2 separate regions of the Homo sapiens genome follow, and region 1 is linked to region 2. Evidence: fine-mapped expression QTL. A gene starts in region 2. The other region holds a variant in brackets. All regions are shown on one strand. Distances are from middle to middle. Region 1 has its middle 8.4 kb from the start of CCDC69. Region 2 holds the start of ATOX1-AS1 (ATOX1 antisense RNA 1).

The links. PIP is the estimated chance that this variant, and not a neighbour inherited with it, causes the effect.
Region 1: its variant is the best candidate, but not a certain one, in a credible set for the expression of ATOX1-AS1 in lymphoblastoid cells (TwinsUK, PIP 0.54).

The regions. Positions count from the first base shown.
Region 1 is chr5:151,231,011-151,233,927 of GRCh38, forward strand. No RefSeq gene overlaps it. Among named protein-coding and RNA genes, the nearest start is that of CCDC69, 8.4 kb to the left of the region's middle. The variant T/C (reference allele first, on the strand shown) is at 1,305.
Region 2 is chr5:151,751,887-151,754,803 of GRCh38, forward strand. ATOX1-AS1 (ATOX1 antisense RNA 1) reads left to right here and starts at 1,194. Exons shown (of 4, transcript XR_007059008.1): 1 at 1,194-1,423; 2 at 1,787-2,236. All of the region lies in intron 1 of ATOX1 (antioxidant 1 copper chaperone), which reads right to left.

The sequences.
Region 1 (2,917 bases), 520 kb before region 2:
TAATTTACTCGTAGGGACACTCTGTAAAGCCCCAGCTTCAGTTCTGGAGATGGGAAATGAGGCTGTGTTGATTAAGGTTCCCTGGGTTTTCTGGACTCTGGATAGAAAGGCTGGTTTTGGCCAGGCACGGTGGCTCATGCTGGTAATCCCAGCCCTTTGTGAGGCTGAGGCAAGTGGATCACTAGAGGTCAGGAGTTCGAGACCAGCCTCGCCAACATGGCAAATCCTGTCTCTACCAAAAATACAAAAATTAGCCAGGCATGGTGGCATGTGCCTGTAATCCCAGCTACTCGGGAGGCTGAGGCATGAGAATCTCTTGAACCCAGGAGGCAGAAGTTGCAGTGAACTAAGATTGCACCACTGCACTCCAGCCTAAAAATAAAGGTTGGTTTTGACAGGCTCCTCTTGAAGAATGAAAACACCTGAAATTGTTGAGTCCTTAGAATTCTACTGGAGTATTTCTCAAGATATGGGCAGGCTCATTTGCTTCAGAAGCATCAGGGATTGGTTAAAGTGCAGTTTCTCTGGACTTCTCTCTCTTTTCCCCATCCACTGCATCAGGACTGAGAGGACTGAGTCAGAGGAATCTTCACACTCAAGGTTGAGCTTTACTGCCCCAAAGCTTGTGTGGGTCTCCTTGCCAGGGAACTGAATTGCTACATGGATTGGATTGGATTGTGTTGAATTGAATGAAAGGGTAAGTCCTTGGAAAGGAGAATTGAATCTGAGTAACACTAATTAGCAAGAAGTCATCCCTGCCTATTTTCCCAGGAGAGCTGTAGTTTGGGATTTGGGCTGCCTTGGGAGAGGCATCAAAAGATTCACTTTACCACTTTCTTTACCAAGAGTCAGTTCATGTAAATCATGGTCGGCCAGTGCTTTCTCTGTTCAGTGAAGTTCAGATAAAGATCCCTAAGGAGCTTGGATGGTAAGAGTAGGAGGAGCACAGAACATCACCTAGAAATACTCTCTCTTTTTTTTTTTTGAGACAAAGTCTCGCCCTGTTGCCCAGGCTGGAGTGCAGTGATGCAATCATGGCTCACTGCAGCCTCGACCTCCGGGGTTCAGGTGATCCTCCCACCTCAGCCTCCTGAGTAGCTGGGACTATGGGCATGTGCCACCATGCTTGGCTAATTTTTGTATTTTTTTGTAGAGACAGGGTTTTGCCATGTTGCCCAGTATTGTCTTGAATTCCTGGCCTCAAGTGATCCTCCCGTCTTGGCCTCCCAAAGTGCTGGGATTACAGGTGTAAGCCACCATGTCCAGCTGCCTGGGAATACTCTCTAGGGAAAACTGCACATGCT[T/C]TCCTTAAGTAAGCTGTGGGGTCTGGAGGCCGCTAGGAATGAACAATAGTGAACATTTCATTGCATCAGTGGCTCTCAAAATGTGGACCAGGCTTTAACAGCATCAGCATCTCTTGGGAAATTGTTAGAAAAGCATCAGACATCCTGGGTGTGGGCCTCAGCAATCTGTGTTTTAACATCTCCTCCCCATAATTGTGATGTGTGCTTATGTTTGAGAACCACTGCTTTAGACCTTCATGTCCTCCTCATGTCTGATAGATGTCTGATAGACTTAAAAAAAATGGACACAGAGATGAGGGACAAAGTAGGGTCCAGGGCTCAGTGAGTCGATGGGTAAGCACTGTTTTCTGGGTTTGAGACATCCTTGGCAACACTGGGTGTCTAGTGTCTAGACCACCCCTACCCACATCCTTCGTGTGAAACATGGTGGACTGTTCCATGGGCTACATGAGCCAGGCCCTGAACCACCCCACATCTAGAGACCTTAGGAGAATCCTTCCTTGCTTTGGAGATTCTGAGGCTCCCTTTTGGATACAGTCTTCTGATGAGCAGCGTGTTGATTTATAAGTAATTGACTGAGCAGGACTCCAGCATTAGCTTGGGTCTTTCCAGGCTCAGAACAGAGCTGGGTATTCACTTGCCCGGCTGCAAGCAGACAGTAAACTCCCTACCCCTCTACCTTGCCTCCCCCAATATACATCTCATCAAGGGACCATCTGCACCTTCTGCATATTCCCACTGACATCATGCTCTCAATTCTATCCAACTGCAGACACATTAACTGTATAGCCTTGTTCAGTGGATCCTCATTTCCAGCAGCCCACTTCATTCTTTGATTTGAAAAGTGAATATTTTTCAACCTGTATAGCCTGCTATGTAATCATAACTTAAGCAACCGTTTTCCAACAGACGACTATGCCTTGACCCCTTCTTCTGGGAAACCTGGCATTTCCTGGTCCTGGGTCCTGATGCATCTTCCTTGTTCTACCCTAGTGGGAGGGTCTTACCCACATAAAACAATGGGAATGAGAGTTGGAGGATGGTGAGGTCAGCAACTGGGCTTTCCAAACTGAAAATTGGACCACATGAGGTAGCAAAGAAATTTTGTGACTTATGTATATTTTTATTGATCTGATTCTATTCATGCATTACTGTTCGCCAAAATATTGGAATTTCTGGGACATTTAGAGGGACAAGGAGGTAGAATAATATTTGTAAATCGGAGTGGCCCAGAATATATGGGAGATATACCTAGGTCTGCAGGTTAAAACCCAAATGTCTATAGGGCTAGGTAGGTACCTAAATTAGAAAAAGGCTAGTATAAGTTGGGGACAGGTGCAAACTGGGGGCCATATACCAAACCAAAAGGAGCACAGGTGGCTGCACTGCAGTGGATTGGTGTTAGAAGGAAATGGAGGCCCTGATTGGCCTGACCTTCTAATTTTCTAAGTGAAACTGAAAATCTTTTTTCTTTTTTTTTAAGAGATAGGGTTTTGATGTGTTGCCCAGGCTAGAGCGCAGTGGCTATTCACAGGCACGATCATGGTGCACTGCAGCCTCAAACTCCAGGGCTCAAGCGATCTTCTGCCTCAGCCTCCCAAGTAGCTGGGACT
Region 2 (2,917 bases):
CAGGACCTGGTTGGCATCAGACTCATCAGAAGCCTGTTTCTGAGCCCGTCTCTTCAACTATAGAGTAGCTAAGAGTTTCTACCTCACAAGTTGTATTCAATGGAATCATCCCTATAAATCCTTTAGCAGTGTCTGGCACATAGTAAATAGAATCACCTGGAGATCTAGTTTAAAATGCTTTTTCCCAGTCCTACCTTCAAAACACTGATTCTTGAGCTATGAGCTTTGTCTCAGGGCCACCAGTAACTCTGACAGGGATGGGCCCCCATACTCTGAGCAATGCTGATCTGGTGGGCCCACTTATGAACCACAAAATTATTTTCTGCACTAGAGTCACCTACAGCTTGCAAAAACTACAGGTTCTGGTCAGCAGGTCTGGGCTGGGGAATCTGTTATGTCTACTCATTACCCCAGGTGATTCTGCTTTCATCCAAGGGCCGCATTCTCAGAGGCAGCATCTGGGTCCAGGGAAAGAAAGGATTGCCTGGGTTCCCCAGTGGGTTGGAGGCCAGGCAGGAAGGGATCCCCGGCTCCTAGTCTTCATGTAAGCTCTACATTCTACAGTCTCTAGGATATCTAACAGATCAAGGGTCTGAAGGTAAGCTCCCAGAAGACAGAGGTTTTGTTCAGTTCACTACTGGATTCCTAATACTTGGAACAGTGCCTGGACAGAGTAGGTGCTTAAAACTTATTTTTGAGTCAATGGATAATTGACATGGCTGGTTTGAACTTCTGGATCTTTTGCTTTGCTTTCACACAAGGATTACTTATACCAATACTTTATTTTAAAATCTCTGGAAATGAGACCATCTGAAATCAGATAAATATGGCTTCAGATACCAGCTCTGGCACTACTAGTTGCATGATCATCAATATGTTACTTCTCTGTGCCTTAGTTTCCACATCTGAAAATTGAGGGTAAGAGTCCCTCTCTAGATTTGTGAATGGGATGAACACAGGATTTTAAGTACGGTTAGCCAGCATCCAAGATGGCCTCAATGATCTCTGCCTCTGGTATTTATGCCCTTGAGTAATCCCATTCCACATGTCTCGGGTTGGTCTGTGTGTCTTATAGAATATGGCTTGAAGTGAGGTTATGTGGCTTCTGAAGCTATCACAATGTCATAAAGGACACTGTGACTTCTGTCTTGCTCCATTTCTGGGGTCACTTGCACTAGAGGAAGTCAGCTACTAAATTACAAAGAAATTCCAGCAACCACAAGGAGAGGTCCACAAAGTGAGAGATTGAACCCTCGAGCTAACAAGCATGTGAGTGAGACATGTTGGAAGTGGATTCTCCAGCTCCAGTCAAGCCTTCAGATGAATGCAGCTCCAGCCAACATCTCACTGCAGCTTTATGAGAGCCTCTGAGCTGGAGCCACTAGGCCAAGCTGTTCCCAAATTCCTGACTCTCAGAAACTGTGTGAGTTACTATAAATATATTTGTTGTTTTATACTACAAAGTTTTGGGATAATTACTAAGGAGCAATAGATAACTAACACATTAAGGAAATTAGAGCCTAGTACTAGGTTCCGTTGGGTAAAAGGTTAGCTATTGGATTATTAATTTCTTCCATTTGTCTCTCCTGTTTCCCTTCAAAAATCAATGGCTACATTTTTCATGGAGCACTTCAAAATATTTGAAGTCTATTACCTCAGTTGGAATCCTGGGTGTAGTGATATATCTTGCTAGAAAACCACAGGCAAAATCTCTGCTCCAGAAGGGCTCCAGTTCCCTAATCTATACCAAAAGGGTATTAGCTAACTCAATTTTTTTCAACTTTAGTGTGCATAGGAAGAATCTGGGGACCTTGTGGAAAGTGCAGCTCCCAGACACCTGCCTCAACTGACTCTGTGGATGTGGAGCGGGCCCTGCCACTCCCCATTTTTAACCTACTGGGGAGAGAACGGGAGGCAAAACTACAAACCTGAAAATAAAGTGGCTAAGTGGCTTCTCAAACTCTTTCCAAGTCTCTAAACACCGCTGAGTCTGGATTGTCACTGTGCTCTACAGAGGAAACGAAGACCAAGAATTAAGCAGCTCGATTTTCCAGTGCAGACTGTTTGACCTTTGTGACTAGTAAACCACTCCTTTTATTAAGGCCAAATCTGCAAAATCTGTCTTAAAGAAAATGGTCAGTCTTTCCTTTCTTCTAAACATCTCTGATTTTTTCATCTTGTTTCCTGACTATTCACAGACAGCAACAATAACAGATTCTGGAAAGAAGGATTTGTAGTAAGTATTACAAAATCTTGTCTTTAAAATGTGGTCCTCAGCCCAACAATATGAGCATCACCTGAGAGCCTGTCAGAAATGCAGAATCTCAGGTCCCTTCCCAGAAGTCCGGAATCAGAATCCTCATTTTAACAAGACACCCAAGTCATTCCTCCCCACATTACAGTCTGAGATGATGCTCTCCTCTATTAAAAAGTTTTTTTAGGCTGGGCAATGTGGCTCATGCCTATAATCTCAACACTTTGGGAGGCTGAGGCAGGTAGATCACCTGAGGTCACAAGTTTGAGACCAGTCTGGCCAACATGGCAAAACCTGTTTCTCTACTAAAAATAGAAAAAAAATTAGCCAGGCATGGTGGCAGGTGCCTGTAATCCCAGCTACTTAGGAGGCTGAGGCAGGAAAATCACTTAAACCCAGGAGTTTGAGACTAGCCTGGGCAATACAGTGAGATCATGGCTCCATTTAATTTAAAAGAAAAAAATTGTTTTGGAAAAAAAAATGATGATGCTCTGGAACATGGATTGGCACACTACAAACTACCTGTTTTACAAAGAGTTTTGTTAAAACATAGCCCAAATCGGGCCAGGTGTGGTGGCTCATGCCTGTAATCCCAGCATTTTTGGGAGGCTGAGGCGGGAGGATCACGAGGTCAAGAGATCGAGACCATTCTGGCCAACATGG